Linked DNA regions of Homo sapiens: all the other regions are reported to be linked to region 3. The links are microRNA targets in miRTarBase. Many come from high-throughput screens and were not tested one by one. Region 3 holds a microRNA gene; each other region holds the end of a gene's coding sequence.
What was found. Region 3 holds the annotated microRNA hsa-miR-6877-3p (CAGCCUCUGCCCUUGGCCUCC, at 1,533-1,553, shown strand). A microRNA usually pairs through its seed, bases 2 to 8, with sites in the 3' UTR of a target mRNA and lowers its output. Matches are read on the target gene's strand: a 7mer-m8 pairs with bases 2 to 8, a 7mer-A1 pairs with bases 2 to 7 and ends in A, and an 8mer does both.

Region 1 (4,066 bases), not on the chromosome of region 3:
ACCACTGCCAACCTCAGGGTGACAGCCCAGGACAGGCCCTAGCTCCTCGCCTAGAGAACTGATTGATCTCCTCTGGTACTCTCTCACCAGATGGCTTGACTGTCTAAAATTTACATCTTAAATCACCTCCTGGTTTAAAAGAAGTAAACCCAGCTAACTATATGATGAAGTGTGACCCCTGGGAGGGCACACACATTTCAATTAGGTTCAGTACTAACCTACATTTTTCAGTTTCCTCTGTATCCATCCTGTTTTCCAGGCACGTGGAACTTCCAGTTCCTTCTGGATCCACTTTCACTGGTGTCCCACTGTCATTTCCATCAGGGCACACTCTTCTTCTCTCCTGTACTTCCTGAGCACTCCTCCCGTGAGCGCCCTCCTGCCACTACCTGGAGGCAAATGCTCTGAATGCCACAGTCCCGAGGCACTCACGAATGCTCACACTGCGGTGACTGTCCCCACAGAACACCGTTCACACCCTGAGCACTGTTAGGAACTCCACTGCTGGGGAAGCCAGATGACTGGAAGGCTGTGTGTAGGCGAGGAGGCCTCATCGCCTGAAACTCCCAGGCAACAGGTGCGACAGAAAAATGATATACTGACAGGAAAAGTTTTGTGAGAGCTTTAATGGCACAAAATGTTTATAGCTACAAGTTATACATGTATTGTAAACTGTATATAACGATACAAAGTGCTAACTAAAATAGATGAAGAATGCATAATCACTTTGGCTCAGTTAATTCCAATAATTTCCACAACGGGTTCATGAAAAAACTTATCTGACTGGCTAAGTCTTCAATTCTCATTTTTTTAGAATAGTAAATATTTTTACTGCAATCACGGGAACTTGTTGCACTTTCCAATGTGCAAGTTTGTGCAGTTTTGCTCTTGATTCTATTTACAAACATCTTGAGCCAGTTTTCATCAAACATATGAAAAATGAAGCCTGCCTTTTTGTCCCCAAATTGTAAACAGGTGTAAAGCTTTTTAAACATTAACCTCACAATTTCAACTATTAATTGTTGAATTCTCCTTTCCAAACCACAATGTTTTCGTTCAACACAAATCTGGGTGTAGCAGTAAAACGTTCATCCCATGTGTTAGGGCTACAGATACATACTACATGCTCTCATAATAAATTCTACTGTGATGATGTATTCACGTTTTAAGTAATTTTCCATAATTTCACTGATGCTTTAAGAAAAAGGGCAACACTATGTTTCTTTTTAACGCTGAAAGAAATCATAAATATACCCAGTTTCAGTGGCACCACTGATAGAACTGCTGCTGAACTTGGAAAGAGCACAATGCACTAGCTGTAAGAAGTCACTTTCAGGTAAAGTGTAATTTTACTTTTCCCCCCTGTAATACCAATTGTAATAGAAATTGCATACTGTAGCAGTTTAGCTAGTCAGTTCTCCTAACTTTCCAGTCTTTCCAATTTTATTCAGGCTTTTCAAAAATCAGTGAGCCATCAGATTTACTTTCTTCCCAAAGAAATTCAAATATGAACACTTGAAATAAATAGGTTATAGAAGGCAAATCAAGTGTTACCAGGTTTAAGAGTAAGACAGAAACATGGTCTAGGAAAAAGATGTCCAAAATTATTTAGACATCAAATGCTAGAAAGAAAAAAGAAAATTACTTTCAAAACTAGGATATATCATCTTTCTTAAAGATAGCCAGCTATATTCTTGAAAAAAGATAAAAATTTTGTTTAATCTATATGTTATTTTCCACTATAACACATCAATTTTACAAATGTTGATGTGAGAAAAGAGTTAGTTTCTGCAAACTGGCAAACCTGTCTGTCATAGTGTTTTTATTCAAGTTGACCTGGTGCACTTTATAGATTGCTAGTTTTAAAATTAACAACGGTTCTCTAAATAGTCAATATCAATGTCTATATCATAAACAGTAATTATTTATATATAAAACATGTGGTATCCTTCAGAGTCATGCTAGATGTTCTGAAATCCAAGAAAATCTACTCGAGATAACTGGTCATCCTGATGCTTTCTAACAATTTGGTCCTAAAGCTTCACATTTTAGAAATGAACGAACAAGTATATCACTGAAGGAATCTGTTGAGTGTTCTGAACTTTAAGAGTTTACCATAACTGAAAAGACAGCTACATGAGAAAATGACCAGTGCCTGCAGTCGCAGGAATCACCTTGGGAAGACTGTACAGTAAACATTATTCAGTGAGAGATCAGAAGGAAACAAATGGCATCTTTTCAGAACGCTGTCAACTGTTCCCACAACCCAAGTCTGTTTTTCCAAGTTGCACAAGTGCTTGGAATAACTCTGAAACAATTCTCTTCAGAGTTTAAAGGCTTCAGAGTATAGGTGATGCTTCCTAAAACAAGAAGCCTGTATTAACATCACAAATTGGAACTCATTCCAAAGCCTCTTCTTAGAGAAAAAAAAATAAAGAAATAAAAAATAAAAAATGTAAAGAAGGTCATGAAAAATTCACATGCAGCTAATTATCGTAAAAAATATCAAACACACACGCAAAAATCTCAAAAAGCAATTTCATATATTTCTAAGCCTGAGACGTTCCTTATCAGAAAGAAAGATTCTACACCATAGAAAAGACAGCATTACAACATACTAGTATGAAAATCTGCTGATGTATTTTACTTCTTATTCTATTTCATACCTATCATTTATACAGTTTGCCTCCTATAAATTAAAAGACGCTATTAGGAGGCTTAGACAAAAAAGTGGCTCCAAAGCTGGTTTAAAATATTTTTTTTATTGCCCAGGATATTTTTTTGTTGTGCCTTGCCTTTTTTTTTTGTTTTGTTTTCTTTTTAATAACTATCAACTCAAACTTAGGGAAACTTGCCTTTGTCTTGGGGGAAAAAAAACAACTAGACAATAAAGCTTCTTTTACATCATTTGCTAACCTGATCTCGTTTTAAGAGAGAGATGGTAGTTATGTTGCAAGAGTAAAATTTATACCATGAATGATACAGGTCTAGTCTGGTGGCACTAATTAGAGATAATAGCATTGCTGACAAAATTATAATCTGCTGGTGGCATTTGCGGAAAAGAAGCCCTTGCAAATTTCTAAACAACAGTAAACTCTGTTAGGAAATTCTAAAATGTCTTCAGGCCAAAAAGGGTATAAGGTTAGTAAAATGCCTCAACAGAGTTTGAATAAAATATTGAATTTGAGAGTTACTGGAATTGGATATGTAAAAACAGGGTGGTAGGTTGGGTCATGCTTACAATGGTCTCAAGTTCAAATAAGCTACTGTGACAATACACCACTTCACAGGTCACACGCATTTCCAGGGGCTTTTCCTTTCCCTCAGTAGGTGCTGGCAGAGGGTGTGCTCAGTCGCTTTCCAATATAGATGCTGAAAGGAAGCAGAAGCATCATGTTTCACCTGTTTCAACAGTTCTATACCAGCTTGTCCACAGGTTGAACTCTACTTAAAACTCTTCAGTCTTTGTAAAAGGCTCTAAAGGTTTGTGGGTACCGCTCCCCAAACACCGTGAAATCATCACTGACTTTCTTAAAACCAGTCACCAGCCCGGCCAAACTGGTTTTATATGAGTTTGTTTACTCATTAAATATCGGGGCTCGACAGCAAAGGGGTAGTGATTAGACAAAGTAAAGCCAGAGAGAACAGATCCCTCCACAGAGTAAATAAAGCAGCCCAACTCCTTCAAGATGTTCCTCTTTGGTGGACAGAAGGTTCTACTGACATTTCAGACACAAAAATATAGTAATATGTGAAATTATTCTGGTGCTCTATGTAGGACAAAAGAAAAAAAAAACCTTAAAAGCTGCCAGTGCTTTAAAGACAGCTCTTACTAATAACTCCTAAGGATTAGGGGCCTTATAATACTTTTTCATGCCAAGAAAGTATTTGGCCTCTTCAACAGCAAAAGCAGAAGGGAAGTTAAGGAAAGTATGTAACTAGCTTCACCTCCAGTGCAATTAAAGCAACGAACTTTTTAAACACTCTTTTTACATTCATCTATAGCAATAGTTATACTTACAGCCAAGACAAACAATCTGAAGATGACTGAAAGAGAGACGGCAAG
Region 2 (4,066 bases), not on the chromosome of region 3:
ACTGGGATGTTATATTCAAGAATATAGATAGAATGAACCAATATGAACTGCAGGCAAAGTCTGAAGTCAGCCTTGGTTTGGCTTCCTATTCTCAAGGGTTTTGTAAAAGTTTAATCTGAGAGTCCTTATAAAAACTTAGAGCAAATAAAATTCTAAAAGAGCGCCTACATGGTCTATTGCTACTCTTGCTGCACTTATGTAAAGAATCAGACCACGTTTGAAGAAACTCAACCTATTTTGCAAACAAACTTATTCTACTGAAATTATCATTGGTAAAACTAGAGATGCCCATAGAGAGAAAAATTATGTGGAAAATAAAAACTGTAGTACACCGGTTATGAGATTGCAGCTCTGTTCATTGTTTCTGTGTTTTTATTATCCACCTGTAGACTGGATATTACCCTGAATTCTACTAGTTCCTCCAATTCCATTTTCTCCCATGGAATCACGAAGAGCAAGACCCACTCTGTTCCAGAAGCCCTATAAGCTGGAGGTGGACAACTCGATGTAAATTTCATGGGAAAACCCTTGTACCTGACATGTGAGCCACTCAGAACTCACCAAAATGTTCGACACCATAACAACAGCTACTCAAACTGTAAACCAGGATAACAAGTTGATGACTTCACACTGTGGACAGTTTTTCCAAAGATGTCAGAACAAGACTCCCCATCATGATAAGGCTCCCACCCCTCTTAACCGTCCTTGCTCATGCCTGCCTCTTTCACTTGGCAGGATAATGCAGTCATTAGAATTTCACATGTAGTAGCTTCTGAGGGTAACAACAGAGTGTCAGATATGTCATCTCAACCTCAAACTTTTACGTAACATCTCAGGGGAAATGTGGCTCTCTCCATCTTGCATACAGGGCTCCCAATAGAAATGAACACAGAGATATTGCCTGTGTGTTTGCAGAGAAGATGGTTTCTATAAAGAGTAGGAAAGCTGAAATTATAGTAGAGTCTCCTTTAAATGCACATTGTGTGGATGGCTCTCACCATTTCCTAAGAGATACAGTGTAAAACGTGACAGTAATACTGATTCTAGCAGAATAAAACATGTACCACATTTGCTAATACTGTTCTCTTAAAATAATTTTAAAAGAATGGGGTGGGCCCTCCCATGTGTCCAGGCCAGGTCTCTGAACAGAATCCTCCATCTGCAGTAACAATGCCTAAGAAGATGACATGGACTTGGTCCTGATATGCAGCCATTCCTGTATACCCTTCCCCTGCTGCAGGGCTGTACTAGCCCAGGGCCCAAATCTTCAGCTGCAGAGCTGAGAGAGAACATGGGATACCCAGCATCCCTTACCTTCTTCCAGTTCACTGCAGTGGCTACCGGCATGGCCCATTTATCCCTGAGGACACCCATCTGCTGACCCACAGTTTCTAAGAGTCAGACTTTCCTGGCTTCTCTGAGTCCCAGCTACTTTCACTCTGCTGAATCCTTCTTCTCCCCACAGGTGTCATTGACTTAGCAGACACCTCTTTCAGCTGCAGCTAACAGGTAAGCCAAGACCCAGACCCCAGAGAATAAACAAGGATTTCAAAACCTACTGTGTCCAACGGAGATGCCCACTTGTGGGCGGCAAGCCACCCAGGTGCCGAGGCAAGAGACCGAGGGCACGAGCTTTTCCAGTATAATAAAATATAAAAGGAGAATAGTTATACCAGATATAGATCTTAGATATGATTATATAGGAATATCATTAATCATTAGTTGGTAGCAATTACTCTTTATTCCAATATTATAATAATCCTCGCTCTATGATTATAACCTAGGAAAAGCCAGGTCATAAATAGATAGGAGCTGGGGAGACATAGTGAGAAGTGACCAGAAGACAAGATTGCGAGCCTTCTGTTATGCCCAGACAGGGCCACTAGAGGGCTCCTGGTCTAGTGGTAATACCAGCGTCTGGGAAGACACCTGTTGCCAAGTGGACCATGGACTAGAGGTACCCTCAGTGTCAAGGAAAAACACCCACTACTTAGCAGACCGGGAAAGGGAGTCTCCCTTTCCCCGGGGGAGTTTAGAGAAGACTCTACTTCTCCATCTCTTGTGGAGGGCCTGATGTTAGTGAGGTCCAACCACAGTTATCCGGAGGCCTAACCGTCTCCCTGTGATGCTGTGCTTCAGTGGTCACACTCCTAGTCTGCCTTCATGTTCCATCCTGTACAGCTGGCTCTGCTGTTTAGTTAGCAGTAGCAAATTAGTGAAAGTACTAAAAGTCTCTAATAAGCAGAAATAATGCTGTAAGCTCTTTCTCCTCTCTCTCTCTGCCTCAGCTGCCAAACAGAGAAGGGCCCCCTGTCCAGTGGACACGTGACCCATGTGGTCTCACCTATCATTGGAGATGGCTCACACTCCTTATCCTGCCCCTTTGTCTTGTATACAATAAATATCAGCGCAGCCTGGCATTCGTGGCCACTACCGTTCTCCACGTCTTGGTGGTAGTGGTTCCCTGGGCCCAATTGTCTTTTCTTTTATCTCTTTGTCTTGTGTCTTCATTTCTACAATCTCTCATCTCTGTACATGTGGAGAAAAACCCACCGACCCTGTGGGGCTGGTCCCTACACCCACTGTACAGAGACATAAATAAGTAGAGATGTATACAACTCCCCAACAACACGGTGTCCTAAAACAATGTTCCCTTCCCCCCTCATCGTGGAATTTACTGTCTCTCACCACATGGGCAAGTGCTTCCAGGGTCTCACAATTCTTCCACAAGAGGCAATGCACACTTTAACATAGCACTTCAGCAAATAAAGTGGTGACAGTTTACCTACTTAGAATAAGTTTCTTGAAGGTTCTCCCAAATTTCCCCCTGAAGAAGACAGAAAAGGCTTTCCCAATTGTGAAACACTGGCCTTCCCACCTTTCAAAAAGGACCACTGAATAGCCAAAACAATCTTGCCGAAATAAATTGTAGGACTTGAACTTTCTTATTTGAAAACTGACAAAGTAGTACAATTATTAAAACAGAAGCTGCTGGCAAAAGATAGACATAAAGACAAATGGGATAGAATTGAGAGTCTAGAAATAAACCCTGACACTTATGGTCAATTACTCTTTGAAGGAGGTATCAAGACAATTTAATGGAGGAACAATTCTCCTTTCAAATGATAGTGCAGAAACAACTAGATAACCACATGCAAAACAGTTAATTTAGATAATTCTACCTCCCACGATATCAAACCATTCTCTAAAAAATTGATCACTGAGTTAAATATAAGACCTATAACCATAAAAACATCTTAAAATAAACATAGACGTAAGTATTGATGATCTCAAATGTGCAGTGGATTCTTAGATATGATACAAAAGCATGAGAAACAAGAAAAAAAGATAAATTGGGCTTTATCAAGATGTAAGCCTTTTGTACATCAAAGGAAATTATCAAGAAAATAATTAATAGGCACAGAATGAGAGAAAATATCTGCAAACCACATATAGGCAGTTTTCATGTCCAGATAATATCAAGAACTAGCTACAACTCAATAACAAAAGGACAAACCATCCAATTTATAAATGGGCAAAAGACTCAAATAGACATTTCTTCAAAGAAGATATACAAATAGTCAAGAAGGACATGAAAAGATACTCAACATCATTAGTCATTAGGAAAATACAACGTCAAAGCTACAATGAGACACCAATCACACCTACAAAACTGGCTACCATTCTTTTACAATGTTAAATAACAAGTAGCAGCATTATGTAGAATTTCGAATCCTCATATATTGCTGGTGAGAATATAAAAATGTACAGCCACTAGGAGAAACAGTTTTCCTGTTCCTCAAAAAGCTAATCATAGAATTCTCATTTGAAACAACATCCATTCCTAGGTATATACCCAAAAAATTAAATCCAGGGACTCAAACAGGTACTTGCATAGGAATGTTGATTGCAGCATTATTCACAAAAGATAAAATATGAAAACAATCCAAGTGTTCATCAACACATGAATAAATAAATATGGTGACACATACAACAGAATGTTAATCTGCCATAAAGAGGAATGAAGCTCTGACACCCGCTGGAACATGCATGGACTTTGGAAACA
Region 3 (4,000 bases):
CTCCAGCCTCTAGGACCTTTTGGCCTTTCCCCAGTTTGAGAGCTGCAGGCCCCAGGGTTTCTCTGAGTTGTCATAGGCAGTTGTGGCTGCGTCTCTTCCTCTGTGAATACAGGTTCCTTTAGCAGCCAACTCTGGGGTCCTTTCCCAGCACAGATGTCCAGAGAGAGGCACACGGTGGCTGTGGGCCTTGGGGGGTTCTGGGCTCCCTGCCTGGTCTGGCCCAGCGGGTGCCTGGGATGGCCTTGGTGCTCCTGTTCTCACCTGTACTCTCTGCCCCCAGGGAAGGCTACAACAATCCCCCCATCTCAGGTGAGAATCTGATTGGCCTGAGCAGAGCCCGGCGCCCCCACAATGCCATCTTTGTCAACTTTGAGGATGAGGAGGTGCCCAAGCAGCCACTGGAGGCTGCAGCCCAGACGTGGAGGAGAGTCTGCACTAACCCCGTGGACCGGAAGGTGGAGGAGGAGCTGAGGAAGGCAAGTCCTGCGCTGCGCCTGGCCCCGGTGGCTCCAGCCTCTCTGTTGGCTTCCCGTGTTTACCCAGCTGCTCCCTGTTCCTGGCTGTGGGGTTGGCTGCACTGACCTTTACCCATTCCTTAGTGCATGGGAACTTCTCACCTTCAGATGCCATGTCTAAAGGCTGTGTCGGTATAAGTTCTACATTCCCAAGGTTGAAAATGCTTCTTAGAGTTCTTAAGAAAAATATGCGTGCGTTGTTCAGATGTGACATAAACGTGGAGCTCTGGGATCCACTGAGCTCTTATTCTTCCATTCACTCATTGCAGCCAAGCCAGTGGGGCACCTAGTGTGCCAGGCCCAGCACTTTCTTACCGTTAGAACTGGAACCGTGCTGCCAGGCAGCCCTCCTTCCCCGGGCTTGCGGGTGCCGTGGAGTCCTGCGTCCCCACTGGCATGAGCATCAGGTTCACAGGCCACTGCCACCTGGAGCCCGGCGCTTCCCTTACGCAGTGTGCCTGTGGGAGACCACGTGGATGTCTTGTTGATTTCCAGCAGTCACTGGGGCACACTGTCAGTGGCTCCTTATTGCCCACCAGGCACAGCCCACATTCCTGACCTGAATTGGCTCGTGAGGCCCGCTGCCCCAGCCCCCTGGCCCTCTACACTCCGGCCACACTGACCTTTGCAGTCCTCCCCGGGCCAGGCTGTCCCCTTCAGCCCTGACGATGTCCCACCTCAGGCACCTGTTCTGTAGATTGGGGCAGCATGGGGACCCTGGGACTCTAGCATGTGCCCCCTGAGCCGTACTCCCCACCGCGCTGTGGGCTCTATGAGGACAGCGACCATGTCTCTTATCGTTTGAGAGACCCAGCCCCACAACTGCACTTGGCACAGGCTGGGCATGCAGCCCAGGCTTCTGAGGGAAGGGATGAATTAGTGAGAGCAGGAGGTCCTAGGGCCACGCCCTGTGTGTCCAGCCCCTGTCCTCTACCAGCTCCTCTCTGGAGGGGCCGCTGGGGCCCAGAACATGTTGGGAGTTCAGGGCCGAAGGGTGGAAGCTGCTGGTGCTCATCTCAGCCTCTGCCCTTGGCCTCCCCAGCTGTTTGACATCCGTCCCATCTGGTCCCGAAATGCTGTCAAGGCCAACATCAGCGTCCACCCAGACAAGCTCAAGGTCTTGCTTCCCTTCATAGCCTATTACATGGTAAGTGTCAGCTGCCCACCCACCTGCCTTGGTTTCCACCCATGTGGTCCCTGGTCCCTGCTGTGATGTCTTAGAGCCACAGTAAGAGCAGCCAACCCCCTATCCTGGCTCCCCATCCTTCCTGCCCCACCCCCATCCTGGCCCATCCTTCCTACCCACCCCTGGCCTGGCCCTCATCCTTCCTGCCCTGCCCCCAACCTAGCACCTCCCCCGTCCTGGCACCCCCATCCTTCCTTCCCCCCTGTCCTGGCCCCCCGATCCTAGCATCCCTAAGACAGCTTATTAAAGCCAGCTAGAAAAGTTTCAGCTCCCTGAGTCCAGGGCGCCCTCCACAGCCTGTTGGGCTGCAGAACCCAGCCCCTGACCACAGCGGCCCCATGTCGTCCTCTACCTGTGTTGAGTGGGGTTCAGTGGGAGGCAGATCCACCTTTGATCCACAAGCATGTAAAGACACATGTCATTACTGAGGTTCCAAAGGTGCTGGTTGGAAAGGGATCCTCCCCGCTGCCAGGCCTCACAGAGCATTAGGGGAGGCCAGCGTAAGACATGACTGTGAGGGTCTGCAACAGGCAGTAGGACACAAGAAAGACTCATTTCTTCTGCCTTGTTGGACTTCCGGCTCAGGAGAGCGACCTGTGCTGCTTGGCGTTGGCATTTTATTTTATTTTATTTATTTTATTTATTTTGAGATGGAGTCTCACTCTGTCTCCCAGGCTGGAGTGCAGTGGTGTGATCTCTGCTCACTGCAACCTCCGCCTCTGGGATTCAAGTGATTCTCCTGCCTCAGCCTCCTAAGTAGCTGGGAGTACAGGCGCACGCCACCATGCCCAGCTAATTTTCTTTTTTTGCATTTTTAGTAGAGATGGGGTTTCGCCATGTTGGTCAGGCTGGTCTCGAACTCCTAACCTCAAGTGATCTGCCTGTCTCGGTCTCCCAAAATGCTGGGATTATAGGCGAGAGCCACTGCGGCTGGCTGGCATTGGCTTTTTAGACATAAGCCATTCAAAAGCTCCGTTTAGGGACAGAAGATGTCTCATCGATTAGGCCAGTAGTAACATTGGGCACTTAATATGTGCCAGGAACCATGGTAAAGGCTCCACGGGCGCTATCTCATTTAATCCTCTGAAAAACCATGGGAGGCCAGGCATGATGGCTCACTCCTAGAATCCCGGTACTTCGGGAGGCTGAAGCGGGAGAATCGCTTGCATCCAGGAGTTTGAGACGAGCCTAGGCAACATAATGAGACCCCATCTCTACAAAAAAATTAAAAATTAGCTGGGTGTGGTGGCTCGTGCCTGTAGTTCCAGCTACTTGGGAGGCTGAGGTAGGAGGATCACTTGAGCCCAGGAGGTTGAGGCTGCAGTGAACCGTGATTTTGCCACTGCACTCAGCCTGGGCAACAGAGTGAGACCCTCTCCCCCAAAAAACAAAAACCCACAGGAAAGGGTGCTCCTTTTCCCTCCATCTGACAGGAAGACCAAGGTTTGGAAAGGCCACGTGCCCTCACCAAGGTGACAGGGCCTGCATGTGGCAGAGCAGGGCTGGGCATCCAGAGCCCTGTCCCCAGCTCCTGAGCTCTTCTGCTGCCTCACTGTAGGCTCTGGCCCGTCCAGGGACCTGGGCCTTCACCTCACCTCACATTTTCCCCACTTTTCTGTCCCAGATAACAGGCCCCTGGCGCAGCCTATGGATTCGATTTGGGTATGACCCCCGAAAAAACCCAGATGCCAAGATTTATCAAGTCCTCGATTTCCGAATCCGTTGTGGAATGAAACACGGTAAAAATTCCTGAAAGCTTTGCTTCCTGCCTTTCTCTCTCTTTATCTTTCAGTTTCTAGCATTCTCTTTTGTAGTAAGAATCTTTTCATTTGGAAAGAATAAAAAAACCTTTTGCCCCCGTTGCTGAGACTCTTTTGAATGCAGAATGGCGTGGAAACGAAAGTCCTAGTTCTGTGCTGGCCCCACCACTGACCGCCCGTTTCTGAACCACAGTCCCTCATTAAGTGACTCCACGTGCCCTATGGTCCTGTGATGCAGGCCAGGCACTTGTGAGAGCATCAGTGCCCGCCCTGCCTGGGAAGTGCTGAGATGTGTTGGTGACCGCAGTGGCGTGCTTGGCAGTCTGGGGTTGCCCTCTCAGGAGCTGGCCCCATGGACCCAACTCCCATCTCCAGTGTGAAGCCAGTGTTGTGTGCCGACGGGCCCTGTGCCCGCCCACCTGACTTGCCCGCCCTCGCCTACAGGTTACGCCCCCAGTGACTTGCCGGTCAAAGCAAAGCGCAGCACCTACAACTACAGCCTCCCCATCACCGTCAAGAAGACATGTAAGCGTGCCAGG

Region 1: the mRNA of BNIP3L is a reported target of hsa-miR-6877-3p. Seed matches in the 3' UTR shown: 7mer-m8 at 2,409-2,415.
Region 2: miRTarBase lists PSG4 as a target of hsa-miR-6877-3p. The part of its 3' UTR that is shown has no 7-base or 8-base seed match.

The regions. Positions count from the first base shown.
Region 1 is chr8:26,409,670-26,413,735 of GRCh38, reverse strand. It overlaps BNIP3L (BCL2 interacting protein 3 like), which reads right to left. Exons shown (of 6, transcript NM_004331.3): 6 at 609-3,372. The coding sequence ends at 3,324. Among named protein-coding and RNA genes, the nearest start is that of BNIP3L, 29 kb to the right of the region's middle.
Region 2 is chr19:43,189,712-43,193,777 of GRCh38, reverse strand. It overlaps PSG4 (pregnancy specific beta-1-glycoprotein 4), which reads left to right. Exons shown (of 6, transcript NM_002780.5): 6 at 390-1,076. The coding sequence ends at 406. Among named protein-coding and RNA genes, the nearest start is that of PSG5, 5.2 kb to the right of the region's middle.
Region 3 is chr9:133,050,503-133,054,502 of GRCh38, forward strand. MIR6877 (microRNA 6877) reads left to right here and starts at 1,494; the gene lies at 1,494-1,557. GTF3C5 (general transcription factor IIIC subunit 5) reads left to right here. Exons shown (of 11, transcript NM_012087.4): 4 at 281-476; 5 at 1,558-1,662; 6 at 3,326-3,440; 7 at 3,906-3,986.